Homo sapiens: one gene and its partners. The protein of the gene in region 1 purifies or fractionates together with the protein of each later gene. This does not show direct contact. Each region holds a gene or a part of one and is shown on either strand. Other genes may lie near its edges. The genes, in order: ZRANB2, PLD1, RSBN1L and LUC7L2.

What was found.
Region 2: the proteins of ZRANB2 (region 1) and PLD1 purify together in Homo sapiens (affinity purification with mass spectrometry; 3 studies listed by BioGRID and IntAct, with this or other methods). This does not show direct contact.
Region 3: the proteins of ZRANB2 (region 1) and RSBN1L purify together in Homo sapiens (affinity purification with mass spectrometry; 3 studies listed by BioGRID and IntAct, with this or other methods). This does not show direct contact.
Region 4: the proteins of ZRANB2 (region 1) and LUC7L2 purify together in Homo sapiens (affinity purification with mass spectrometry; 5 studies listed by BioGRID and IntAct, with this or other methods). This does not show direct contact.

What each region holds. Positions count from the first base shown.
Region 1 is NC_000001.11:71,078,035-71,086,043, forward strand, and holds the start of ZRANB2 (zinc finger Ran-binding domain-containing protein 2), read right to left. Parts: upstream 3,002-8,009; 5' UTR 2,962-3,001; coding exon 2,906-2,961; intron 675-2,905; coding exon 622-674; intron 532-621; coding exon 423-531; intron 1-422. UniProt on the Homo sapiens protein: Splice factor required for alternative splicing of TRA2B/SFRS10 transcripts. Binds to ssRNA containing the consensus sequence 5'-AGGUAA-3'. May interfere with constitutive 5'-splice site selection.
Region 2 is NC_000003.12:171,800,482-171,807,506, forward strand, and holds part of PLD1 (phospholipase D1), read right to left. Parts: intron 1-7,025. UniProt on the Homo sapiens protein: Function as phospholipase selective for phosphatidylcholine. Implicated as a critical step in numerous cellular pathways, including signal transduction, membrane trafficking, and the regulation of mitosis.
Region 3 is NC_000007.14:77,762,448-77,769,472, reverse strand, and holds part of RSBN1L (lysine-specific demethylase RSBN1L), read right to left. Parts: intron 3,979-7,025; coding exon 3,841-3,978; intron 813-3,840; coding exon 670-812; intron 1-669. UniProt on the Homo sapiens protein: Lysine-specific demethylase that specifically demethylates methylated lysine residues of proteins.
Region 4 is NC_000007.14:139,411,881-139,418,905, reverse strand, and holds part of LUC7L2 (putative RNA-binding protein Luc7-like 2), read right to left. Parts: intron 6,356-7,025; coding exon 6,326-6,355; intron 1,445-6,325; exon of another isoform or gene 1,369-1,444; coding exon 1,177-1,368; intron 1-1,176. Other genes in the region: FMC1-LUC7L2 readthrough protein, read right to left, coding at 1,177-1,368, 6,326-6,355. UniProt on the Homo sapiens protein: May bind to RNA via its Arg/Ser-rich domain.

The DNA of each region.
Region 1 (8,009 bases):
CTTAATTACTTACGGCACACAACTTATGAATCTAACATTATTTTGTAAACAGGCAAAATGAGTTTTGTGGTGTATTTCACACTAACTATACAGTCTAAAAATTGGGATTTTTCAATAAAGGAAGTAATAGGCCTTAGTACTTTTAAGTACCACCACCCCCCGATTGGTTTTGAGCTTACCATAAGCATTTGTTTACTGGTATACATAATCCATCATAGTGACAACTATTACCATTAAAAAATGCAAAGAATAATTTAAAACTTCTTTATACTATACTTAAAGATGAGACTGAATAACAATACCTTGGATTTAAAAGGTTACCCTGGCTTGTCAATGTCACTAATAAGAGCTGTAATATAAACAAGTAGTGGCCAGATCTATTATTTTGGAAGAAAGAGCAGACAATAATTTAAAAAACATACGTTTTACATTGCCAGTCATTAGCACTAAATAGGCCTCGGCTCTTTTCTGCAAGTGTCTTTCCTATTTCAGTGCCCCCAGCTTTCATCATCTTGGCCTCAGTTGTTTTCTCTGAAAACAGAAAAATCATGCAATATGAACCTGGAGAAATAAATAAATGATACATATACAGTATAAATAGAATCTTCTTTAAATACTTACCCCGACCACATCGATTACAGCTGGTTCTTCTAGCAAAGTTTACATTTCCACATCTAAAAACAGATTAAAAAGCATTTATAAAAATTTAAATTTGTAAAATTTTACATTTTAACTTGTCCTCACTACATATCTGGAATTCATAACTTCTAATCCATCTTAGTCATGTTAATGTCAATGTTACCAACAAAAAACTCCACACAATTTACTGGGGGAAAAATACTTGATTGGAGCCACAAATTCAGAATAAGATATCCCAATCCTCCATTTACCAGTCATGTGATCTTGATTAAGTTACTTAGGATCTCTGCCTCAAGTCCTCACATTAGCACATATCATTAGTTATAATCCCTTTACAAAGTTGAAAGTGAGAGTTAACTCCACTTCACTAATTACTTACAAGCTACCAGGGAGTTTTAAACCCTAGCGGTGGACCAATGAGGAAAAAAACTTATAAATCAAGGAGGGCTTCATGGATCTTAATGAAATTATCTTTTTACATGCAGTAGGTAGGATGCTAAGGAACCAAATATGATAGGTTGTACTGACTAAAAATACAAAAAGATTCAATAATTGTAAGAAAACTGAGTTTTACAGGGCATTTCTCAAACCTCTGAGACTTCGCTGAAAAAAATGACACAACCACCAAAACCAATAATCTCAACACATGTAGTACAGTAAGACTTTATGCTTATACTCAACAAACTCAAACCTAAAGAATTACTGGTTCACTCACATGACCTTAGAAGTGTACGTGTATATTGGTAAAAGTATGTTAAATGCTCTGGATAACATGGAATGCTTAAACTTTAAAAAGCTGATTTTTAAGGCATTATACTAGAATACAATACAGATGTGAAGTATGGGATGACACTAAAGTGAAACACTCTAAATAATATTTAGGTTAAGTTTTTCCCCTAAAAATATTCCTTTTAACTCCATTAAGCATGGAAAATATACTCTGAAAATTTATCCTGCATTTAAACATATTGTACAAACAACATTCTATTCATATATTTGTAAATGAGTTGAAATGAACTCTCATTGAGAGTCCTACCTCTGGGTGTGCTGTCATTAAAGACACTGACAAAAGCACATTATTTTACAGGTAACAACAAAGTCAGAAGTTGTTGTTCTAAATCTTTTGAACGTTTTCAATAATGTCTTACCACTCAGAGCAATACTATCCATAACATATAACTTTGGTTCTATTCAGTATCATTTGTTAGGCTTGAACTACTCCTTCAGGTCATCTTAATATCAAATTACTATCAATAGCCACCAATTAGAATTTGCTACACGTCACTGTTTACACACCCTATCCATGTTATTTCATGTTTTCATTAAAAAAAAAATTCTATTCCTTTTTTAGCAGTTAAATAAGTAATAGAATTTTAACTAAACCCAGGTTTATTTCAAAGTTTTTGCTTTTTACAATCAAAACCTATTTGTGGCTAACTTAGGTACAACAAATAAAAGGCTTTTATGTGAACATGAGTTGTACATTAAATTATTTTCCATGTTATTTCCGAATAGATACACCTATTTGTGCACCCTTCAAAAAAAATCTGATTAACTATCTAGTCGAGTACTGGCTTTGGCAACAATGTCAAAAAGCAGAGCCACTAACACACGTGCTTCTCTGCTGCAGGCATCTTAAGGGCTGAGTAGGCAAAAACACAGGCCTCTTCCCTCCTTTTCGGCTCTAAGGAGGCGAAAAGCCCAATTCTTGTGGAGAAATGATCCACAAAGAAAATGTCAGAATTTCCCAAACCGAAGAGGGTAGAGCTTCCGGAAAAGGGGAAAATAGTATGGAGGAAAAGTTTGAGTAAAAATACAAAACAAGGTGAACTATAAGAGGCAAAAGGACGAGTGCGAGAAAGCAATATTTTCCGTGAACAAGAGTAAAGTTCTGCAGAGAAAAGTCACGTGGGGGAGATCCAACACCAAGCTGGCCTGACTGGAGAGGTTTCCTATCGCTAAAACCTGGCCGGGGCGGGGGAGGGGGGTGGGGGCAAAAAGGTAGGCCATCTCGCACTCTAAAAAGAGAGGCTACCTTGCGGAGGTAATGTCGAGGAAACGCTGAAGACATATCTAGAACAAAGGCTCCCGGAAAGACCTCTCTCGTGAGGAGATTGGGAGCCTTCTTCCCGCCAGGGAACTGGCGGTTCGCCGCCTCAACCCGTCTTAAGGCACAGAAAATCATAAAAAAGGAAAATGCCGGACGGACCTCGGAAAGCTTCCACTAACAAACTCCGTCCCAATTCAGGACCCTTCTTGAACTCACTTTTTGTCAGGGCAAATCCAGTCCCCGTCACTGACTCGGAAATTCTTGGTCGACATCTTGAACGCCACCAGCACAGCCACCCGCAGCTATGTCTTCACAGGAGGAAAACGGGCCGGGGACTTTCGGCAACTCGGGGCTGTCCCCACACTGCCTGACTCGCGCCTACTACTGTGTCAGGGTTTGATAATGAGGGAACTAGCCAGGAATTCAGCTTGTACGTTGTTGTCCAGACTAAGATGCCTGTGCTACTGTTTGTTAGATGGAAAAGTTAAAATACAAATATCTTTTCTAGAACTAAACTCACAGGCGCCATAAGGACAACCCAGGCAGGAGGCCTTCGTGGCACTAGAAGCCTCGGAGAGCCCCCTACAGGTGGGAGGACCCAAGAGTAAAGTACTTCCGCTTCCTTAGGTGGAGCTGGAAAGGTGGAGGCGGAAGTGACTGATCAATTCAGGGGCGTGGGGTTCGTTTAGGGTAAGAGGCGGCTCGGGCTCTTCAAGTGTTTAGAGAAATTATTTTAATAAGGCATAAAAATTCTGTTATTTCATACACATGGGATGTCGTTTGGAAACCTATTTTTATATATACATAAATAGGTGTAACAGATAAGTAAGCAACTTATACATGGGAACCAGCTGGTAATTTTAAAACTGAGACATTGTCAACACTGTTTAAATTACCAGTGTCTTTTCTGATACCATCCCATTACTTTCTTCCACAGATAACACTTTCCCATATTTGGGATTTATTCTTTTGCTTTTTAAAAATTTATGTACGTTGTTAGTCCAAACTGCACCATTTTTGTAAGCCCCCCTGCCATTTTGCAGACCTTAGTCAAAGTGAAACATTCCACGGGGTTCGGGCGTGAGAAACAGGCTGCCTCTTATACTCTGCTGGGAGAAAGTACCACATTCCACTGGAACAAGGGCCAGAGCCGCCTCGTCCTGGGAACACCTTATCAACATGTTCCCAGGAAGCAGGCCATGGCCCCCCAGACCACTCCCACCCAGGCCTATAAATCACCCCAGCCTGTAAGAAGCAACGGGCACTGGCATTAAGCTGGTCTCCCACCTCTGTAGGTCTTATGCTGGACATAAATCCTGTATTTGTTGTTAAGCCACCCTCTCTTTCTTTAATCCTTGCCTTCCCTTCAAAACCTAACATACATGTATGTTTAATTTTATGAGCTGTGTAAGCATAGTTGATTCTGTACTCTTTTTTTGTTCATTATGCTTCTAAATTAATCCTAGGTAGTTGCATGTAGAAGTGTATAGGTGTAATTCTTTTATTTGCACTGATGTATACTGATACTATTCCGTTTTGTGGTTTTGTGACAGTTTATTCCTTCTGTTTCTCAGGCTTGGTATTACAAACAACACCAGTATGAGCATTCTTATGCATAGATTCTGGTATATAAATGCATTAATTTTTTTTAGAATACAGCATATACAGTCATGCCTCACTTAATGATAGGGATATGTTCTGAGAAATGCCACTTTCGGCAATTGTGCTGTTGTGTGAACATCATAGAATGTGCTTACACAGGCCTAGCAGGTATAGCCTACTACACACCTAGGCTATATGGTATAGCCTATTGCTCCTAGACTACAAACCTGCATTTAGTACATCTTATTGTACTAAATACTGTAGGCAGTTGTAACGCAGTGGTATTTGTGTATCTAAATATAAAGGTACAGTAAAAATATGGTATTGTAATCTTATGGGACCACCTTTGTATATGTGGTTCATCATTGACTGAAATGTCTTTATGCAAGTATGATTATGTTTAGGAGAGAAATTGTTCAACTACTCTCTAGTTATGATTGTTGCTTTAAAATCTGTATTATAACATTTTGGTCATCTAGGAGTTAGCAGGTGTTGATTATATTTTCCCTTGCAAGTTGGTCACATTTTTCCAGTTCTTTTATACTGTGTAATTGTGGATTTTATCTAGGACATTTTGAACATTATGTTGCATAGACTGAGTCCTGTTAAAAGCCTTTAGGGAATGTTGATTTTTTTTTGTTTTAGAAGGCAATCGATCCAATTTGGTTCAGGTCAAAAGTTCGGTCTCATCTTCTATGAGTACTGGTTCCATGTCAGCTGGGTTTTCAAAGGCTTTGCTGTGTCCTATACCTACAATACTCAGGGATTATTTGGGGATGTTAGCAGTAGTTTAAATTGAAATTCAGTTTTGCTATGCTATTTTGTGTTTGTTCTGCACGTGTTCAGTTTAGGTGTGAACACAGAACTTGTATAGGTTCATACATAGAATTAGGGGATCCTCTTCTCTAGCTCTCTCCTCTTACATTCTTCTCCTTTTGTCTCGCAAGGTCCTCTCACCAGAAATATGAGGTTCCTCTTGGAGTTTTAGCAGCCTGGCATAGCAGCTGACTAGGGCAGATTCTGAGACAAAGCAGTGACAGAAAAGAGAGAGAAAAAATGTGGATTCCCTCTACACTCTTCAGACCACAAAGGCCTCCTTTTCTACTTCCTTTGTCCATAAAAACAGAGCTTCTGTTAGTATTGTAGATACCCAAGCCTAGGGCCTCACTCTTGGGCCAATGCCCAGAGAGAGAGAGAGAGAGAGAGAGAGAGAGAGAAATTAAAAAAAAGAAAGAAAAACCAGAAGAGGGGGAGCTAAGTATTCCCCCGACTAACTTTTGGCTCACAAAAGCCCCCTATCCCCATTCTGGCAAGACATACAGGTTTCTGTCGGTTTTTCCTGTCACCACAGTTTCACTAGGTGTTGGGCCTTAGGTCAAAAGCTGTGAGAAAAGAGGAAAAGCAAACATACAGAACATTTCTCCAGGTTTTCATTCTCCACTCCAATTTACCTGTTTTTGTTTTTGTTTTTCCAGAGTCTTCAGGCAGTTGCTTTTGGTATTTTGTCTTGAGTTTCTCACTGTAATCATTAGGAAAGATAGGTTATTGTGGGCTTTCTATGTCTTGGTTGGTACTGCAAGTCAGGGGAATGCAAATTAAAACCATATGATACCATTATGCATTCATCAAACTGACTAAAATGAAAAATCAGAGAATACTAAGTGTTGGAAAGCATGTAGAGCAACTGTAATTCTCATACATTGCAAAAAGTAATTGATACATCTACTTTGGAAAATGTCGGAATATATTAAATCTGAACATTTTCGTACACTATGACCCTGAAATTCCATTTTTAGGTATATTACCAACAGGAATGCACATAATGTTCACTGAAGATGTATATAGTAATGTTCAGAGCTGTACTATTCAAAATAGCCCAAACTGGAAGCTTCCCAATTGCTTATCAGTGGTAGCCTAGATAAATAAATTGTCATATGTTTACACAGTTGGAATGTGTAATACAGTAGCAAGAATAACAAATTACACTCAGATTATTGAACAGTATTTCACTCACAAATACAGTCTTGAATTGAAAAAAGCAAGACACAAAATGGCATATGCTATATGACTCCATTTACATGAAGTTCAAAAGCAGCCAAACTAATCTTGGATAGTGATCACCCTTGGGAGTAGAGAGGAGATAGTGACTTCATGGGGTCAATAGGAATAATAGATGCCAAAGCTGGTAGATGACATGCAGTTAATGCAACAACAGTTAATCAACTGTACTAACTGTAATTAGCAAAATTTTTCTGGGAGAATTATGTGTCAAGAGAAAAATCCTCTATAGTAAGTCTAGGATAATGAACAAAATGCGTGAATACATCTGATAATGACCAGAAGAGGTTATTTGAGTTCAAGGACTTTAGCTGATTTTTCAAAGAGAAATATTCCTACAAAAGAAATTCATTTCAGCTATCCTAATTTGAAAGAAAAATTCTACCCATTCTCTTTATTCTTATTATATGCTCACCAAACAGCCCTCTGATAATTTGTCTTCTCTCCTGAGCACACTTAACCTACTGTGGTGAAATTCCCAGAGTGAATTTATCCACACAAGTTGTTCATCTGGATTAAGCTCTCTTTATAGATTGAGAAATTGGCACTCTGAAATGCATATCAGTTGTTTATGGGTCCTCTTAATATGTTGGTCCCCAGGAGATTAGCTCTGGTGGAAATGGTAAAGTTGAGTTTCTGAACCTACAAAGCTAAGAATCTGGCTCTAAATATTGCATTAGGGCTCACTCTGCTTGCAAGTAACAAAAATAAAAATAAAATGACTTAAACAACAAAAAGGGGGAGCATATTATAAAGAGAAGGTGGTGTTTGATGGAATGCCAGAGCAGGAATGCAGTTTCAGAAATATCCTAAAAGAAACTATCCTCTATTCAAGCAGCACCCTTTCTCTGTCTCTTTGCTGAATTTGTTCTGCATATGCGTTATTCTTTCCTCAGACTAGCTTTTCTGTTACCTAGTTCAGAAGACTGAAAAAAAAAAAAAAAGCAATACTGCCCTTAGACCTGGGCAACCAGGGCTCCTAGCCTGGTCCTGCACCTGGCCTTCCTTGAGGTGCCCTAATTCCCCTCGAGTGTCTTGGACCATTCAGCAGGATGGAGCCAAAATGTAGTACTATGTGGGTCCTGGACAGTGGAAGTCCTGAGATGTTCTATTGCTTTTGGTGGTGGGGACCAGCCAGGTCAGCAGGACCTGTTGGGTGGGACAGTCCTAAGCCTAAAGAAAATGTTATTGGCTTCTTTGTTTCTTCCCTTCAGGCCCTCCTGACCATATTGCCCTCTTAACATGCTCAGGGTCCACCAGTGCAGCAGGATCTCTGGTACTAGCACCTGTAGGGTGGCTTAGGGCCAGATGGCCCTGCCAGTTCCTGGAGAGCAACTTGGAGGGCCAAAGCTCCCACTGGCTGGGGCATTATTTCTTTCATGGCATTATTTCTTTCATCGCACAAGTTTGGGCCACCAGAATGATGCTTTTTCAGTGGTTTGAGGGTGATTTTCACTAATATCAGACACAGGATGAGTTCAGTGCTCTGGGCTACCACTGTCCCCCCATGCATCCTTGGTCTGGAGCTGACTGTGTGAGCCAGTATGTGGGCTCTTCCCTGACTGGTCAGACCAAGGAACCACCTCTAGTGGAGAGCACTTGAAAAAGGTATGTGTGTCTGCAGACATCCTTTATCCTGGGGTCTCCTGCCGTCACCCTG
Region 2 (7,025 bases), on another chromosome or scaffold:
TACAGTCATGAACCACCGTGCCTGGCCCAAACATAATTTTTAAAAGGCAAATATACAATAGTATGTTTTCTAAATGAGATGCTCTGATTAAATGTGGTATTTAGAGATGCTCCAGAAGTCTGCTGTCTACATCCCTGGACCCAATCTCTACTCCAATGCCAGCCACCTGTCTTAGTCCACTCAGGCTACTGTAACAAAATACCATAGACTAGGTGGCTTATAAACAACAGAAACTTACTTCTCACAGTTCTGGGGGCTAGGAAGTCCAAGATCAAGGTGCTTGCAGATTTGGTGTCTGGTGAAGGCCTGCTTCCCCAGAGGCTGCCTTTTCACTAACCCGTCACTTAGTGAAGAGAGTCAGAGGTCCCTCTCTGGCCTCTTTTATAAAGGCACTAATCTCATTGATAAGGGCAGAGCCACCATGGCCTAATCATCTCCTAAAGGCCTCACCTCCTAATACCATCACCCCTTGGGGTGAGGATTTCAACATATGAATTTGAGGAAGACAAATATTCATACCACTGTACTGCCCTGAAACAAAGCAGTTTGAAAATCACTATCAAGGAAAATTGGAACATACAATCATTATAAAAGCCAGCCCATTTCAGGAGGCCTGGCAGGATTCTGCTGCACAATTCAGTCCTGCCTTTGGATGACTGCATTAGACTATAAGCTGTGGGGCTGGAACCACATTTTAGACTCACTAGCCTAGGCCTAGTACTGTGTTAGCACCAAAAAGACTCTGTGCTTGATAAATTCTTCAACACCATCCTGAAGAGGGGCTATTGCAAATACAGGATGAAAGCTTTCACTGCCAACTTTATTGGCCTTCCAGGCAATGGATCTGCAAAAATTACTTCACTGTCAGTCAAACCTACCCCGTGTATCTGGTGAGATCAGACAGGACGAACATATCCAACATGCGTTTCTGGCATGCCTTTCTTTTTGTTTCTTGTTTTTGTTTTGAGACGGAGTCTCGCTCTGTCACCCAGGCTGGAGTGCTATGGCACGATCTCAGCTCACTGTAACCTCCACCTCCTAGGTTCAAGCAATTCTCCTGCCTCAGCCTCCCAAGTAGCTAGGATTACAGGCACTCACCACCACACGCAGCTAATTTTTGTATTTTTAGTAGAGATGAGGTTTCACCGTGTTGGTCAGGCTGGTCTTGAACTCCTGTCCTCAAGTGATCTACCTGCCTCAGCCTTCCAAAGTGCCGGGATAACAGGCATGAGCCACTGTGCCCAGCCTATGGCCTGCCTTTCTTACAAAGTGATACACATTTCCCTAGTCCCCATGACACTACCAAAAACCACCCCGGTAGAACTCAAAAAAGGTAGGAAACAGGAGTTTCCCCAAATCAGTCTCATTTATGTTACGATACTTTCATGTTTAATCGATCCATTCTATCACAGATTATACACCCACATGACAGATGCAACTGAAACAAGTTTTTGCAAGCTCTCTGAAAACGACAGGAGGCATTCACATAGAAAGCTACAGATTTTATTTCTCATCAGTTGAGAGCAGCACTTTGTTCCAAATTGCAGTAATATCTCAGCAATGAATCATTGTCATAAAAACAGCAACATCTGTGAGGTCAGAAAAGAACAATTAGGAAAACAAATGAATCCCTTGGGAACCAGGGTTCACACTAACATCATATATTTATATAACAACTTGGAAAGGTAGTCATTCAACAAGTAGTTAGTGAGCACCTACTACATGTCAGGAAAGTCCCTACTCTCATAAAGCTTAAGTTCTTGTGTAGAAAACCCAGTAAGCAAGAAAAAGAGAAAAGAAAAAGAATTTCAGATAGTGGTGAATCCTAGCATGAAAATAACCCTAGGTGAAAGGCTGGAACAGGATCAGGTAGCAAGCAATGCAATGTGGACTGTGAAGTGAGGCAGCTTTCAATGGTCAGGGAAAAAACCTTTCCAAGGAGATAACATTTGACCATTTTGTCATTGATCCAAATGACAAAAAAGAAGGAAGCCATGCAAAGACTTAGGAGAAGTGTGCTCCAGGCAGAGGGAATAGCATGATTAAAAGGCCCTAAGATGGAACAAAGCTTGATGTGTTCTAAAAACAACCTTCCTAACAAACTCTGGAGATAGGCAACTGTAGTTCAGAAAGGTGAGAAACAAGTTGATCAAGGTTACACAGACGCTAAAGTAGAAATGAAACTTAGCACACCTGACTCCTCTGATAGTCTCCCTGCAACACGCTAGCTGCCTTCCTAGTTAGAAACCCAGGCTCCAATGAATGAGCATGAGAAATCAGGCCAATGGGGCAAAGAGTGGCCCCTGATTACCAAGTTTCACAGGATCAGAATTTGAGTTCAAACATAAAAATCGAGGCTACCATACAATGTGGCCAGGGTCCAGCAGCCCAGATGACCTGATTCTAAGCAAGGTACACAGGTGCCAGGGCTGGAGAGCAAGAGCCCACAAGAGGGGCCCAGAAGGCACATGGGGTGATCATCAAACTCCCAAGGGAACTTACAAAATACTATTTTGAGTCCCATTCCTCAAGAATCTAAATTTATTACATATGTGATAGAACCTGGAAATTTGTATTTTAAGAAGTTCCCAGGTGATTTTGTTTAGCCAGACTTTGGAACTACTGTGATGGAGAAGGAGGGAAGGCCAGCTCTTCAGGAGGTTGCAGGGAGAATTCTATCTCTACAAAAGGAAGAATCAAGGGTTAAATTGAATGCAGTTGAGACTTGTACCAGACCAGATCATAGGCACAGAGAGATAAGAACATTGCATAACTAAGCGTATTCCTTTCTCCCCAACCACATCCCCAAATTCAGAATCACTGTGACGGTTGACAGAAAAGTGCAGGAGAAATCTCTTTGGTCATAATGAGAAAGAAAGATGGGGTGGAGAAGCTCGGATATACCCCCTGGGCAAAGCCAGTGGTGTGCTGAGAAATGCTTAGCAACCAGGTCCGGGTGGAGGAGAAACCCTAACTGTAGTGTTTGCCAATTTCGATGGTGTAAATATTCCTGGAAGGCCAAGGCAGGAGGATCACTAGGTCAGGAGTTCAAGACCAGCCTGACCAACATGGTGAAAGCCTGTATCTACTAAAAATACAAAATAAGCCTGGCATGGTGGTATGCACCTGTAATCCCAGCTACTTGGGAGGCTGAGGCAGGAGAATCGCTTGGACCTGGGAGGCGGAAGTTGCAGTTAGCTGAGATAGCACCATTGCACTCCTGCCTGGACAACAAGAGTGAAATTCTGTCTCAAAAAAAGAAATTCCTATCATGGCCGCTTCCAAGTTACCAACATGATATCACTAGAACATACAGTTTGGGGAAGACGTGCAATAGTTACAGTATTTTCACCATATAGAAATAATAAACATAAATAGCATAGAGAGCAATAAATTTAGTAAAATAATTAGTAAGTCAGAGGTGTGGGTATTTATTATCTTTTAAAAATAGTTTTAACATCACAGTGATGTTAGTGCCAAAAATATACTTCATCCCCAAATTCTGTACTCCTACCTTACCTCTTACCTCTTTTTATTCCAAAGCAGGAATAATGGTGACATTTAAAAAACAATATCTAAAACATCATCTTCATTTTTTTTTCCTATTCTTAGCCCCTTTGGTTAAATTTCTCACTTTTGGGTCTGTATCTTCAGAGGACCACTGCCCTACACATCTGGAAATGTTTTTCTGCTCCAAGTCATAAATCTCCAATCCCAACCCATGGCTACCTACTCAAACTCTTTATTTCAAAGGACTCCTTCATCAGAAATTGGGCAGAAAAAGATCAATGAAGTGAGTACAGCTGTTTACCCAAAATGCCACAGACTGTCCATTCTACATCTACACATTTTATTTTTAAGAATAGTTAAATGGCACCATAGAGCAAATAAATAAGTAAAACGTTAATTATAAAGACTTATTTTCTGGAAATACCTATGTATTTTGAATAAAATGGATTACACCTTCTCCCTTCATCCATGTACCCTTTCATTCAGTTCACATCTATTGTACACTACAATGGACACTGGAGACACAAAAATGACAAAAACACAGTCTGTGACCTCAAGGACCTTGCCCTCTCACACGGAAGACAGACAATAGAAAAAATAATGGCAAATCCAGTGATTCTAATATCACACTACATATAAAATCCACCCATGGAAAGTGGCATAAACCAAACTAGACTAGACTGTTATGAAGATCCCAATCAGGGGCTAAGAGTTCCCTTGTATCTTATTGTCCACATGCTTTGTTGATTAGCAACAGTTTAAACATTAAGATCCCATCAAGATAAACCAAAGGAAAGATCATCTCCAACTGCTTATGAGATTTTGAAGGCATCATCCAGTGGTAACACACTGAGATGCAAGGCTTTTTGTAAAGAATTGACAAAGGTATTAGCTCCCTGCTTCCTATCTGTGGCCCTCTGCCAATGCCTCGTCTCTGCATTTGTTTCTCCCCTCCCTTTCTACGGCTTTCCTTTTCCCCATGTTTATTCCTATTCTCCTTCATCTAAATGTGCCATCTGTAAAAGCCTACTTTGAAAAAGATCACTGTTAAATTCTGAACCCTTATTTTCCTGTTCTTAATATAAAGTTCATAAGTTTATGGCCTCAGAAGTCTCTCTCTCTCTTTCTTAACAAAAGAACTGACTAAACTAAGTTATTTTTATTTCCATGTTGCTTTTGGCTGGTTTTCTTTTGTGCGTCAGAGGCTTCCAAAAGGTTCCCAACTCTAGATCCAAAAAGTTCAAAAAATGATTGAGTACAGAATAAAATATTGCCCTCATCCAGAGGGGAGCTGAGGGTCACGGGCATTAGGAGCAACGGGGGAAGCAATCCAGGATTCTGGAGCCCTAGGAAGCAAGACCTGCCATGACCCAGTCGGCCATAATGTGGGCCCTTATTTAGCAGATTAGCTCTAGTATGGTCATAACAATTATTAAAATATTGAAATGCTTCCCTCTGGAAATATTGCACATAACACCCAACCCCTTCCAAATACACCTGGCCTCCCAGACTCTCCCAGGATCCCTGGCCCAATCTCCTCACAATCAGGAGTTAAGGCCTGGCCCAGCAGAGGATCTCCAGGACCCTGCCCCAGTGCTTCTACCCTTTGACATACCCATGCTCCACCTTAATTTCGTTTTCCGAAAAATAAAGGACTTGAACAGATTGTCTGAGTTGCACTATAATTGCAATTATGTCAAAGAACAAGGACGAAATGGAAATAAAAAAACCTAAAAAAAAGTTTGTTAAGAGGATGGAATCACAGGTTATGTTTTTTTCTAGACAGACAGCAGTGTCAAAACTCTGGGTGCAAGCTGCCTGGGATGGATCCCCAGCTCTACCATGTGCTAGTTGTGGGATCTCACTATGCCTCAAACTGCCTCATCTATAAAATGGGCATAGGCCAGGCTCAGTGGCTCATGCCTGTGAATCCCAGCACGTTTGGAAGCCAAGGTAGGAGGACCACTTGAACCCAGAAGTCTGAAACTAGCCTGGGTGACATAGCAAGACCTCATCTCTACAAAATAAAATACAGTAAAACAAACATAAATAAATAAATTAAACGGCCATAATAAGATTACCTACTTTACAGGGTTGTTCTGAGGGTTAAATGTATTCATGTTTGTAAAATGCTTAGATGAGTGCAAGGCACAAAGTAAACACCACGTAAGTGTTTATTAAATAAATAATTCATTTTATTCTGTCGTTGTAATGTTTGCTCAATAAATTTAAAAATTAAGAAAGTTTCACAACAGAAAAAAAACACTGTGACACTATGAAACACTTACGTAACATACACTTTTGCTTAATAACCCAGCACTAAAACAGCTGGGGTCCAGATTTTACACTGCACTGTGAATTTAGGGAAACTAACACACTGGAATGTGTTCCCACTGAAGCATAAGATGCGATTTGTATGATTCTCTTTGTAATCAGAAATGTCACAGGCTTATGGGAAAGTTAGGTTTACATGTTTCTCATTTTAACCCTGCAACAACTTTTAGCCACACCCTAGCAAATACATTTTATTTTGTGGTGCTAAGACTTAAAGGATTGTAAACACAAAACCAGACCTTGCAGAGCTACAGCTTTTCTTGTGAACACAATGACTCAGCCTAACTACAAGTTTAAAGAGACATATCTTATGTGTTGGGTCCCCTAGTATCAATCTTTAGTAAACATCTGGGATGGACAGGAAATTGCTACACACTGCTTTTAGTTACTAAAAAGGCAACACTACCTGAGCTCAAGCATAGTTTAGATAGGTACTATTTGCACTGCTATAGAGGACAACACTGACAATTGTTATTTTTCTGATAGATACTCAGGAGAGGAAATGATCAATAACAATAATTCCCTTACGTGTTCCTTCCTCTTGACAGCTAAACCCCACAATACCCTTAGACACAAGTTTAAATACATCACAAGCTTATCCTCAAACAGTAATGTATTAGGTCTTTCCTGCTGTAGATAAGATTTGTTAAACAGTCTGGCTATGGCTTTTTACCTTTTCTCTTTTAAAAGTGCATTTCTCAGCTGGGTATGGTAGCTCATGCCTGTAATCCAGCACTTTGGGAAGCCGAAGTAGGAGGATTGCGGGAGCCCAGCTGTTCAAGACCAGCCCTAGCAACACAGTGAGACGCCATCTTTATAAAAATACAAACAAAACTGGCCAAGGATGGTGATGCGCACCTCTAGTTCCAGCTACTCAGAAACTGAGATGGGAGTATCACTTGAGCCTAGGAGGTCAAGGCTGTTGTGCCACTACACTCCAACCTGGGCAACAGAGTGAGACCCTGTCTCAAAAAAAAAAGTTTAAAAGGTGCATTTCTCTAAAGCTACGAGAAGGAACTCAAACCTTGCTTAGTGATAAAACTAAAGCCTGCAACACAACCATTATCATTAAAATGTTATTAAAACCCTGTAAGAAAGATGAAGAGTCTTGTGGATGGATGGTGGTGACGGTAGCACAACGATGTGAATGTATTTAATGCCACTACATGTACACTTAAAAA
Region 3 (7,025 bases), on another chromosome or scaffold:
GGTAGGGGCTCTGCCTTTGTTTTTATGAGAGCCAAATATGCCAGCATTATTCATTAAATACATCTTCCTCTTCCCACCTATCTCATATATTAAGTTCCCAATATACTTAGATCTATTTCTGGACTCTTATTCCAATGATCTATTTGAACTTTATAGTAATTTTTAATATCCTGTATCATAAGCTGCCTCTCACTAATCTTCTCTTTCACTGAAAAGTTTACTTCCTTATGAATTTTAAAATAATTTTATCCAGGACTGGAAGTGTTAGTCCAATTGAAATGCAGAAAATTTTAAAGAACTATCATTTTTATCCAATCCAGAACACAGCAGGGCTTTCCATTTGTTCTGATCTTACTTTATATCCTCCACAAAACATTTTAGTCTTCTTAGTATAGGTTCTGAATATTACATTTATTCTAAAATAGTTTATATCTTATGACATTTTTTCCATCCATCATTACAATTTCTTGTCATTTGCCTACATTTCTCATGCTTTATTTACATTTTAGGTTTTATAACAAATTGTATTAGCATGTATCGCTATTTTTAAATTTATATTCCAATTATGCTCTAAACTTTGCATTCCTCCTTCCTCCAATTTTCAACTAACATACACACCCCAACATACAAACACTCATCCCCTCCAATAAAAATGTGTATACAACATACCTTTTCCTTTTGAAAGGTGACTTTGGCATATCAGCCACAGGGATCATTTGTTCTCCTGGACGAACCCACATGATGGGACCATCATCACTATCTTTTCGACTCTGTAATTTTAGACTAGATAGCGTCCCCCATGGCAGTGTACACTGGAGATAAATAATTATGCAGATTGCAATTATTTTCAAAATGTATCTTCAAGTGTATGTTAATAATAATATTGTTCCCCTGACAAACACACTTTCATACACAGCTTTATACTTAAGCATCTGAAATACATAATATTGAATATATCCCTATATATTGATATACTTTGCTTCAAAAAACTGTTTCAAACACACCAAGAAAATAATTATGCTTGGATGGTTCTGTCCCTATACCCTGCTAGAGGTATGATTCACTATATTCATCATTTGTTATTCTTCCTTCTACCATATAGATCATATGATGTTAACGGACTAAATAAGCAAGTGCTCTCATAAGAATCTATAAAAATGAACAATTAAATTTAAGTTTAAAAACTGGATACCTCTTTGATTAATGATAATTAAAAACAAAACAAAACAAAATCAAAACATATTTCTGTTCAGCAGTTTCTTGAAGAGGTTGTTGGCTTAAACCAGAGACTAAAGTATTTTAAAATGAAAGAACAAGGCTGGGCGCGCAGTGGCTCACGCCTGTAATCCGAGCACTTTGGGAGGCCGAGGCGGGCGGATCACAAGGTCAAGATATCAAGATATCGAGACCGTCCTGGCCAGCACGGTGAAACCCCGTCTCTACAAAATACAAAAATTAGCTGGGCATGGTGGCGCGCACCTGTAGTCCCAGCTACTCAGGAGGTTGAGGCAGGAGAATCGCTTGAACCTCGGAGGCGGAGGTTGCAGTGAGCCGAAATCACGCCACTGCACTCCAGCCTGGTGACAGAACGAGACTCCAAAGAATGAAAGGAGAGGGAGGGGGGAGGGAGAAGGGGGGAGGGAGAAGGGGGGAGGGGGCAGAGGAAGGGAAGGGGGAGGGAGAAGGGGGAGGGGGGAGAGGAGGGGAAGGGGGAGGGAAAAAGGGGGGAGGGGAGGGGAGGGGAGGCGAGGCGAGAGACAGAGGTGAAGGGGAAGGGGAAGAGAAAAGAGAAGACGGTGGCCGGGCACGGTGGCTCAGGCCTGTAATCCCAACACTTCAGGAGGCTGAGGCAGGCAGATCACCTGAGCTCAGGAGTTTGAGACCAGACTGGGCAACATGGAGAAACCTCATCTCTACTAAAGATACAAAAAATTAGCCTAGCATGGTAGTGTGTGTCTGTAATCCCAGCTACTCGAAAGGCTGAGGCATGAGAATTGCTTGAACCTGAGAGGCAGAGGTTGCAGTGAGCCGAGATCGCACCACTGCCCTCCAGCCTGGATGACACAGCGAGACTCCATCTGAAACCAAAAACAAACAAACAAAAAAAGACAGAGAGAGGGAAGAAGGAAACTGAGGGCCACTGTCCATGGAATGTTGAGAACAAAATTAAAAAAAAAAAAAATTTCACCACACACCCCCTTTTCAAAAAGGCTTGTCAAATTTCTTTAGAAACAATGCATTTAGGTTGGGTGTGGGTGGCTCACGTCTGTAATCACAGCACTTTGGGAGGCTGAAGCAGGAGGACTGCTTGAGCCCAGGACTTCAAAGCTAGCCTGGGCAACATAGCAGGACCCCATCGAAAGAAAGGAAGGGAAAGGGAAAGGGAAGGGGAAGGGGAAGGGAAGGGGAAAGGGAAGGGGAAGGGGAAGGGAAGGGGAAAGGGAAGGGGAAGGGGAAGGAAAGGAAAGGAGAAATAATGCATTTAGTTCATGTGCTTTGAAAATTAAACTTGAAGCAACCATTTAAGTAATATTTGGTAATTTTTAAATATAGTCCAATAATAAATGCAACCTAATTCCATGATGTAACTACTAGAGAGAAGTAGAAAAGGAACAAAAAGTTTAAAAGGAAAAGAGAAAAAGGAATGGAACAAGGTTAAAGAGAAAGGGAAGAAAAAGATATATGTACATATAGGGTAAAAACACCAAGCAAACAGAAGTAATAAAAGAAGAGATGTCCTATAGATTATGTGGTATCAGAAATCTTGTCACATTCCACAGCTTACCTGGACCCTGAATTTCAGTGTAGGTTTGCAGCATTGACCTTTGAGTTACTGATTAAATAATTAACCTAACCACACAGCTCAGAGATTCCTCTCTCAGTGGGATAGCCCTAGCACCTCACAATAAGAAATACTTTTTGAAAATCAAGAGGCTTTAAAAAAAAAAAAAAGGAATCTGGCTACAAACTATTTAAAGGGGCCTGTGGTGGTGGGCACAGTGGCTCACACCTGTAATCCCAGCACTTTGGAAGGCCAAGACAGGAGGATCACTTGAGTCCAAGAGTTCAAGACCAGCCTGAGCAACATGGTGAAACCCCATTTCCACAAAAAATACAAAAGTTAGCTGGGCATGATGGCATGTGCCTGTAATCCGAGGTACTTGGGAGGCTGACGTGGGAGGATCATCCAAGCCCACGGAGGTCAGGGCTCCACATTACACCACTACACTCCAGCCTGGGCAGAGAGTGAGGCTGTCTCAAAAAAATAAATTAAATAGAGGGGCCTTTGGCTACATTGTCTAAACATGTTATTTTATGGATGATGAAACTGAAGCCCAGAAAGTTTAAAGGGCTTGCCCAACCCAGATAAGTACAGCCATGGCTAAAATATGGGTGTGTAATTTCCCAGGCGAGTTTTCCTGGAATTTAGTTTAGGAATGCTAAACTGCCATTCCTTTGTCTTAAACATTTGTAGTAGAATCCTTCCTGTACTTCTTAAGTCCTTTAGTACTTAGTTTACAAAGAGCTGATAAACACATGGAACCTAATTTCCTAAAGTGTTAAGAGGTGTTATTTCATGGCCCACCACTTAGCTTTGCCATTACAATTAGAACCTGAGATGTCGCATGTACACACTACACAAGAATTATGTCAGTTTCCCATCTCTTGCTCTCCTTCCCTCCAGTTCAAATAAAACCAAAACGTTTCTATTTCTGAAACAGCCATTCATTTATATTGCATGTAGCATGAAAGAAACAATCACAATTTAGATTACTCATATTGGTTTTTCTTCCCTTTTTTAAAAAAAAAACTCTAATCCCATGACAGATTGTCTCTTACTTTTAAAAATGGTGACTCTTCCAACATGTCAAGGAACTCAGGGAAATAATCTCCTACTTCTTCATCAACTGCTCCCACCAAGCTTATTTGTCTCATTGGGCCAGCTCTGTAAGTACCATGAGAATACGTTCTTTTTACCTGAAGAAACATGGATTTAATTAAAAGTTAAATACGTTCTTTTTACCTGAAGAATATGGATTTAATTAAAAGTTACACATAAGATAATGCTTGCTATCATTTTGTAGCAATAAATTATTATCTCAGAATATTATATCATAATGAGGCAAGCAAAACAAAACTTTACTAACAGTAACAGATAAGGCATTTTAAAAATAAAACTTGCACTAAATCAAGCTATTTTACTTTCTCTAACTATTCCTACACACTGCTTATGAAAACAGAGTTAAGACAAATAAGCATTAATTCTAGACAACTAACATCTCCTTAGAACAGAGGAACTCATTATCTGAGTATTCAAAAGTTGGTGTACCTGCATTTTTCTAAAGTGAAATGAAGTTCATATCTTTTCATCAACATTTTCAAAATTAGACCCTCTGAAAACATTTAACCATCAACAGTGGCTTATATGACTAAAAGGCCACCAGGGATGCTCTTCTTTTTTGATCTTACCATATTAACTAGAAACCAGTTTATATACCTATTATTAACTCTCATGAGAAACTACTAGAAATTAAGAATCACAGCCGGGCGCAGTGGCTCACACCTGTAATCCCAGCACTTTGGGAGGCCAAGGCAGGCGGATCATGAGGTCAGGAGATCAAGACCATCCTGGCCAACATGGTGAAACCCCGTCTCTACTAATAATACAAAAAAATCAGCCGAGTGTGGTGGCCGGCGCGCGCCTGTAGTCCCAGCTACTTGGGAGGCTGAGGCAGGAGAATGGCGTGAACCTGGGTGGCGGAGCTTGCAATGAGCCGAGATTGTGCCACTGCACTCCAGCCTGGGCGACAGAGCGAGACTATGTCTCAAAAAAAAAAAAAGAAAGAAAGAAATTAAGAATCAGGAATCCTAAAATCCAAATCTGCCTTTGCTATCTACCAGTTACATGACCTTCAGAAATCATTTGCGTTCCTTGAGCTGTGGTTTCCTTAACTGGAATGTTTTACAGCAGATTGCTGAAGAAAATTTGATAATGATATAAACTCACCTGCCATAATGCTAGCAAATGGGTGGCATTCAAAGAGCCAAAACAAAGCCATGTGCACCTCAAGATTGATTGGTAACTACATTTCTTGCCAGCATATTTAAATCCTGACAAAGAAACCTATGTGTTTTCATATACTAACACTAGTAAACAAGCTGAGTCTGTCTTCAAGCGAAACAACTCGTTTTGATAACCAAATTATAAGCAAAACTGTAATTGTCTCTTTCTCTGGATTAGCCTTTGTGGACAACAAATTTAGGAGACCAATTTGTCCCAGTTTGCCCAGGACTATCAGTCTTAAAACTGAAAGTCTTGTATTTCAGGCAAACATGGATGGTCAACTTTTATCACATCACAGACACAGATTATAAAAGATAGTCACATCAAAAGTTGAATCCTTACAATCATAGCTGGTAAGAGTATCACAACGTAACAAAGTAAACCCCAACCCACATGTTTTCATACAAAATCATTTAAGGAAGAGAATCTCATTTGTTATTATAATCAGCAAAGCAGTTTAATAATGACATTAATTCTTTAATAAATTCACCAGATTTCTAAGCCTAAATTTTCCTAAACTGTTACAAATTGACTTCTCAGAACCACAAACCATTCCTACAAGTTAGAAAATTAAGGGCCTGTAAGCCCAGCACTTTGAGAAGTGGGAGGATATCTCCAGCCTGGCAGGTCCAGGCTGCAGTGAGCTGTCATCAGGCCACTGCACTCCAGCCTGGGCAACAGAGCGAGATCCTGTCTCAAAAAAACAAACAAATATAAGAACAGCTGGGGCTTATGCCCCCATTGTATGCTCATTGTCTCATCTTTTTCCTGTCGCCTAAAAATTCCTATCATCTCCAATATCAAGAGAGCTAACAGTTAAAGCCTAACTCTACAACAGTCTTCAGGCTCTAGATGCATTAATAGCAGCACAGTAAGAAATTCAGTCTATGCACCTCTGTAATGCAGTCTATCAAAGAAGCTAAGGGTATCAATCTCAACTCTAGCACATTTACCAGAATAGAACACATCAAGTCTGTTAAGTGATTCTGAGATTCTGAGTTTTGTGTCTGCAAATGACCATAAGGGGTTTTGAGAGACGATAACCATTTAGAAAGTGAAATCAAACAACTGATATTGTAAAACACAAATTTTCCAAGTGCTTTGAAATATATCTAAAAAGTCAAATTAGAGTTAGGGGTGGTGACACGAAACTGTAATCCCAGCTACCCAGAAGGCAGAGGCAAGAGGATCACTTGAGCCCAGGAGTTCAAGATCTGCCTGAGCAACACAGCGAGACCAAAAAAAAAAAAAAAAAAAAGTCAAATTATATATATTTCCACCTCATACAAATAAGTACATTTTCTGTGCATAAATTTCCTTATCTTGTTTAAATTAGATACCTACAACATTTAGTTCTAACAAAGCCATAATCAAGTCCTTGCCACTGAGTTGGTTCATTCTATGACATCACAGTACCAACAATGATCACCTAAATAATTTGGGCAGTTTATCTTGTGCGGAGGGGATGACTGTTAGGAAAGAATTTTCATTAAGTGAATTCTTCTAAAATACGAAGCACAACTAAACTTTCAATTTATCTAGTAGTTTTAAAAAGTCATATTATACATGAAATAAAACCAAAAAACTATAACATTATTAAATTATAGAGAGTAGGAGATAATATAATAATCAGAAAACCGGAACCAATTGTTAACACAGTCCTTGTAGAGTAAAATTTATGTATTTAAATGTGAGTAAAAACATGTATCATTGAGTAACAGGAAAAAATTGGGTAAAACTTGGGTGGTAATATTACAGACACATCATATGTTGTGTCATGACTCAAGAACTTTATTTACTAATTTTGCTTTGACCAGATGTTGCTATTTCAGGTTAGAATAATTATTTCATTGACTGAAGAAGTATTACTGACCTAGCCATCTCATTTCTTTCAAATTATACATTTACATTAATTTCCAAGTTTACAAATAATGCTTTTTATTTCAAAATAAAACAAAAC
Region 4 (7,025 bases), on another chromosome or scaffold:
TCTCAAGTGATACGCCCATCTCGGTCTCCCAAAGTGCTGGGATTATAAGCGTGAGCCATGGCACCCAGCCTCACATAGGAAACTTCTTAGAGCAACTTAAAGTTGTTCAACTATGTTATACGTCTTTCTTATGTTTTACTAAGTCTAGTACAGTAAAACATATACAATTAATTATTATTAAAATCACCTTAAGAAATACTAAAAACAAGGCCAGAATATAAGAAATAAAATATTGAGAGCCTATTAACAAACTCAGCTTGTGAGTGATTTCAGGGAATGGAAAGTTGAGTCAAAAAAAAATAGGAAAGATTTTAACAGCTTTCTGTGGATTTTATTATAGATTTTATGTGGAGTAATCCACAGAATATGTAAGACTAGTAGGTACTAGGCACTCAAAAAATGTTTATCATACATATACTTCTGAATAGTTGTCAAGAAAAAAGCAATTTTAAACATGGCTTACGTTACACAGAAATTACCTGGTTTAAGGGCCATCATGTGACCTGAGAAGTTTTGACAGTTTGATCTATACAGACTATGAATGCTAAACTCTTCTACCACATTATAATCCTTTGTCTATCCTTAATAGATATTCAAGTCCTCAAACATACCTTACCCTATGCCTGCACCTTTTGAATGTTCTCATTAAACCAAGGGAAGTCTTGGAACCTCCTTATTAGTCTGCCTTGCCAAGCTGAAGGTATGTAACAATACATATCTATAGTGCAGATAAAACAAGAATATACTAGAATGTGTCTGCTCTGAAAAAGCATCCCAGCTCAAATAAGTTTAGAAAACAATAAATCAAAGCTAAACAACTCTTGTAATGAAAGGACTTCTCAGAGCCCCTAATTTGCTGATCCATACTAAGGGTATTGGTATTTAAAATTATTTACCTGTAAAGAACTTTTTTCCAAGACACACTAAGCAGAGAAAAGCAATAACCTCTACACATATTGGTTCCAATTTCTTGCTCTGGCTCATAAGTATATTCTTTCAAAACTACCCATATAATCACAGAAAAATGTTGTACACCCACACATAAATGTGTACATATTACCAGATGCAAAAGTTTCAAACCAATAATCTGAACTCTAAACATAAGTAACATAAGTAAACATAAACAACTCTAAAACATTAAGGTAGCTCCATATCCTCTGATTGACACATCAATACCTCCTCTTGGATCGTTCTCTGCTCCTATCTCTAGAACTGTGCCGACTTCTCTGGTGGCTACGGCTGCGGCTACGGCTGCTGGAGCGGGACCTGTGGCGATGGCGTTTCTCCCGAGATTTGGATCGAGTTCTCCTCTTGCGTTCACGTGACATGGAGCGAGATCGATGTCTGCGATGCTCTCTGGACCTGGATCTACCAGACAAGATTTGATTTTGTTTCTACCTTTGTAATTACTATATTTCTCATTTATTAAAGCCTTTTCTTTAAAGAGAAACTTTTTTTCAGTAGTCTTAATGTCAATTATATTCCAAGTCAGCTAAATCTACACTGAATTGCTGGTGTGTTAATAACTACATACTAGAATTCAAAATAAAACATTAATAATTCTCAGCCAGGCGCCGTGGCTCACACCTGTAATCCCAACACTTTGGGAGTCTGAGGCAGGAGGATCGCTTGAGCTCAGGATTTCAAGACCAGCCTAGGCAACATGGCGAAACTCTGTCTCTATAAAACATACAAAAATTAGCTGGACACAGAGGCACATGCCTGTAGTCCCAGCTACTCAGGAAGCTGAGGTGAGAGAATCTCTTGAGCCAGGGAGGTCAAGGCTGCTGCAATGACCTGGTGATCACATCGCTGCAGTCCAGCCTGGGCAAAAGAGTGAAATTCTGTCTCAAAAACAAGACACTGATTGATAATTCTCAGAGAGCAATCAGTAATGTATAAATTTATTATCAGAAATAGTTTTTCAAGTGAAAGCAACTTTTGAACCACTACTATATGCCAGGGGCTATATTATCTAGATTTGTTATGAATTTAATTGCACTTAAATATCTTGAACATTTTTGTATCCTCTAGAAATTAAATATGTACCTGACAGACCTGGACAGAAGGGAAGAGAAGAGATGAGGAAGAATACGTCAGGACAAATTACTCTTTGTCTGAATTAGAAAGGTGAGATAACCATAGAAGTAAGTTTTTAATGCCCACAATATGCATGTCTAGTCACAGTGTAATCAAAACAGAGTAAGGGCCAGGGGTAGTAGCTCACGCCTTTAATCCCAGCACTTTGGGAGGCTAAGGAAGGATGATCACCCAAGCCCAGGAAGTCAAGGCTACAGGGAGCTGTGTTCACACCACTGCATTCCAGCCTGGGCAATAGAGAGCAAGACAAAACAAACACAGTAAGACAGTTCTCTATTCAAGGAGCAAACAGTTTGGGAGAAAGAACACTTGCGAAAATCATTTTTGAGAACTTGACTCAGATTGCAAAAAAAATGTATTTCTAATGAATACACAGAAATAGAGAACGAAAAACATTCTGAAAAACCAGAAAATATACGATCAAGGTGCTGGCAAAATAAAGACATTTTTTGAAAAGAAAAAAACCCACAAGGTAAGACACTTTTATAGCCTCCACCAGGTCACAAACTAACTTGTGGGGTGGGTGGGGGTGCATGGTGAGGGTGGAAATGGCATGGAGAGGACATAAACGTTTGACAGAAAACAAGGGGAAACAAAGGAATGCAACTTTGTTAGAAGAGTCACTTTAAGAATGATGGAAATGTTCTCAACTGGATTATGGTGATAGTTGCACAGCTTTAAATCTGCTAAAAAATCACTGACTTCAGAGTAAATCATATATATATATATATATATATATATATATATATATATATATATATATATTTTATACCTCAATAAAACTCTTAAATTTAAGTCACTTTAAGAATGTGAGGTTTGCTCATAATTTGATACAGCAAGTTCAAAATCATATTATACATATGAGATAGTTTACAAATACAGTTTATCTTCAACTGATTGTTATGAACGATGCTAAAAGGCATTCAGCTTATGTCAACATTATAGTCAAAGAAAGGTACATGACATGGACGTAGCTTTAGCCACACTTAAAAAGAGTATTTCTGGCTGGGCACAATAGCTTGTGTCTGTAATCCCAGCACTTGGGGAGGCCACAATGGGAGGACTGCTTAATCCTTAAACGGGAGGAGTTCAAGACCAGCCTGAGCAACATAGGGAGACCCCGTATCTACAATAAATTTTTAAAAATTAGCTGGACATGGTGGCACACGCCTGTGGTCCCAGCTACTCAGGACAGAGTGAGACCCTGTCTCAAAAAAAAAAAAAAAAAAAAAGCGTTATTTCCACAGCTGAAAAGAGTAATTCCAAAAGGAAGCAGAGGGAAAAAATATAAAACTCTCAGTGTAAGTTTTATCAAATCATACTTCGTTTAACCACTCATTTTGAGTTATTATGAATGCCATTTCTTCCAATGTATAACTTTATTCATCTTTTTAAAAATTCTAGGTAATTTTTTCATCCAAAAAATATTCACTAGGTATTTTTGCACTGTTCTATACTAGGGGAGGTTGAGTAGCAAGTAAAACAAAGTTCCTGCACTAAACTTAGTGCTTATACTATAGAAAGGGATCTATACAGGTTTGTAGGCAGTAAATAAAGATATGTCAGGTGGTTAAGAAAAAAAAAAAAGATCTATTGCTGGACATGGTGACTCATGCCTGTAATCCCAACACTTTGGAAGGCTGAGGCAGGCGGATCACTTGAGGTCAGGAGTTCAAGACCAGCCTGGCCAACATGGTGAAACCCCTACTCTACTAAAAATACAAAAAAAAAAAAAAAAAAAAAAAAAAAAACTTAGCAGGGCATGGTGGCACGTGCCTATAATCCTAGCTACTAGGGAGCCTAAGGTAGAAGAATCACTTGAACCTGGGAGGCGGAGGTTGCAGTGAGCTGGCATTTTGCCACTGCACTCCAGCCTGGGCAACAGAGCAAGACTCCGTCTCAAAAAAAAATTAAAAGATGTTATTACGTAGAGTGGAAAAAGAGAAAAGAGTGGAAATATTTATACGGAATAAGCAGGGAAGGCTTTTCTGATAGGTTGGCACTGAAGCAAAGCTGAAAGAAGAAAGGGAACAAGTGAATCAGTCATCTCAGAGAGGAGTGCTTCAGGCTGAGGGAACACAGATGCAAAGTCCCTGAGGTGGGAAAAAGCTCAGCATGTTGAAGGAAAAGACCAGTGTGGCTGGAATGAAGTGAGCAAAAGGAAGTAATATCAGGGTCTTACAGGCAGGATGACCAGGTACTTTATCATTCAAACTAGAAGGCTCTGAATAAGTTACTGAATGTAATGAGAAGCTATTAATACATATTCTGGGATAAAAGACATAAACCAGAACTATCCCAGGGCAGTTTGGGCTATGCCAAGCTTGTCCAACCTGCGGCCTCCAAGCCGCATGCTGCCCAGGATGGCTTTGAATACAGCCCAACACAAATTTGTAAACTTTCTTAAAATATTATGAGATTTCTTTGCAATTTTTTTTCCAGCTCATCAGTTATCATTAGTGTATCTGATGTGTGGCCCAGGTAAGCCAAAAGATTGGACACCCCAGGCCACACCGTCACCCTATGTAAAAGCTTTGGTAAAGATGTTAACTTCTCATATGAATGAGATGAAAAACCTTTGGAGAATCAGAGGGCTGATGTGATGTATTTCATTTATTTAAAGGCTCATCCTGGCTGACGTGTGAAAAATAGAATGAGGTGAAGAAGGGGGGTGGGCAAGCACAGAGAACTAAGGAGCCCAGTTACAAGGCAAACATATTATCTAGGTAACAGGACTAGAGGAATAGAAATTAAATTTCTGGCCCAAATATCTAAAGATGTTCTATGTGCAATACTTTATGTTTTCAACAAAGGGACCAGCTTATATTAATCAAACAGTAAACAATAACAGTATCACAGTTTAATGTTTCTACTTATCATGCTAGATCAGAGAAATTCACCAATAATATAAATTAGCTGACACAACTGGCCCCACTTATTAATGTTCTTTAGTTTTTTTAGTGTTTTAGGCAGAAATATCATTGATAGATGTTGCTAACAGAACTGTAAGGTTTTTGTTTTTCTTTTTTTGAGACAGTCTTACTCTGTCACCCAAGCTGGAATGCAGTGGCACAATCTCGGCTTACTGTAACCTCCACCTCCTGGGTTCAAGTGATTCTCCTGCCTCAGCCTCTCAAGTAGCTGGGATTACAGGCACCTGCCACCACACCCGGCTAATTTTTGTGTTTTTAGTAGAGATGGAGTTTCGCCATGTTGGCCAGGCTGGTCTCGAACTCCTGACTTCAGGTGATCTGGCTGCCTCGGCCTCCCAAAGAGCTGTGATGGTATAAGCGTGAGGCACTGCGCTCAGCCAGGTTTTTCTTTCATAACAACAAATTCTCTACTTTTTAGGGAAAACTTCTTGGGAAATAGTCTCTAGAGCTGAGAACTCAGAAAGTTTCTAAAAGAAGATGTGATCTGAACAAGAGGAATGGTAGAATTTGGAAAAGACTGAGAAAGGGCATTCTAGGTGGGAATGGATCCATGAAGAAAGCTCAACGACTGGAATGAGAAGGGCAAGTGAAGAACTGAGAAAGAATGATGAAGTACAACACATTTCCCTGCCTTTCTCAGACAAAAAAATGTATCAGCAACTAGCAAAAACTACAAAGAAAGGTTTCAAACCCCAAATATTAACGCTGAAAGTCAAAACAAAGTATTGTCTTGCTCTTTTAAGGCTGCAAATGCCTCTCTGAAAGCCTTCTGTGATCACTGTATAAAGGAATGGGTAATAAACTCACATAAAGTCAAGACTGGAGGGTATACTAAACATTTTGGTTTTGCTTAACCCACAGTGGATCAATCAAAATTTTATCCAACTATTAACCTACTAATGTTTTCAACAGCTACAACCTCTTAGAACATGTTTCCTAAATGTACCACCCAAATTGATTTTTAAAAAATTAATCCTTTTACGTATCTACTCTGAGCATCTAAATGATTTCAAAAAAAATTTTCTTTTTTTTTTTTTTTTTTTTTTTAAAGACAGAGTCCTATTCTGTTGCCCAGGCTGGAGTGCAGTGGTGCTATCTTGGCTCACTGCAACCTCTGCCTCCCGGCTTCAAGCAATTCTGCCTCAGCCTCTTGAGTAGCTGGGATTACAAGCATGCATCACCGTGCCCAGCCAAAAAAGAAAATTTTTAAAGGACCATTTAATCAATCTATAAAAACTACCTTTGAAAAAGACAACTTCACTACTTATACCTGTCTTATGTAATACACCTACCTTTTTGGATTCTTGCTGTGTGATCGGGACCTAAAAAAAAAAAATATGTATTTTTAGAAAAGTGGCTATAAATAAGAAAACAGTGCAGTGTTACATTATATTCTTCCTGATTTCTAATGTTTACATTAATTTTATAAATACAAGGCGTGTACCTACGCACACAAAATTTTCCAAAAGACACCACAAACTCGACAGATTTCTTCACCTTGCAGGGTTTGCTTAACTCAAGAATACCTGGCTCTTAAAGAATATGTTCCTAGGAGATTAAAACACAGTACAGGTTGAGTACTCCTTCTCCGAAACGCTAAGGATCATAAGTGTTTCGGATTTTTTCTGTTTTTTGTTTTTGTTTTTTTTTTTTTTAATTTTTACATTTTTTGTTGCCTAGGGTGGTCTTGAACTCCTGGATGCAAATGATCCAACCACCTTGGCCTTCCGAAGTGCTGGGATTACAGGTGGCCGATTTTTTTCAAAATTTGAAGTGTCTGCATTATAATTTACTGGTTCAGCATCCCTAAATCCAGAAACCAAAATCTGAAATGCCCTAATAAGCATCTCCTTTAAATGCTGCCAGCACTCAAGAAGTTTCAGATTTTGAAGCTCACTGGATTTCATTTTTTGGATTTGGGATGCTCAACCTACATATCACAACTTGCTAATTTTCCAGAAACCACTTACCAGCTTGGAAAAAATTCTTTTA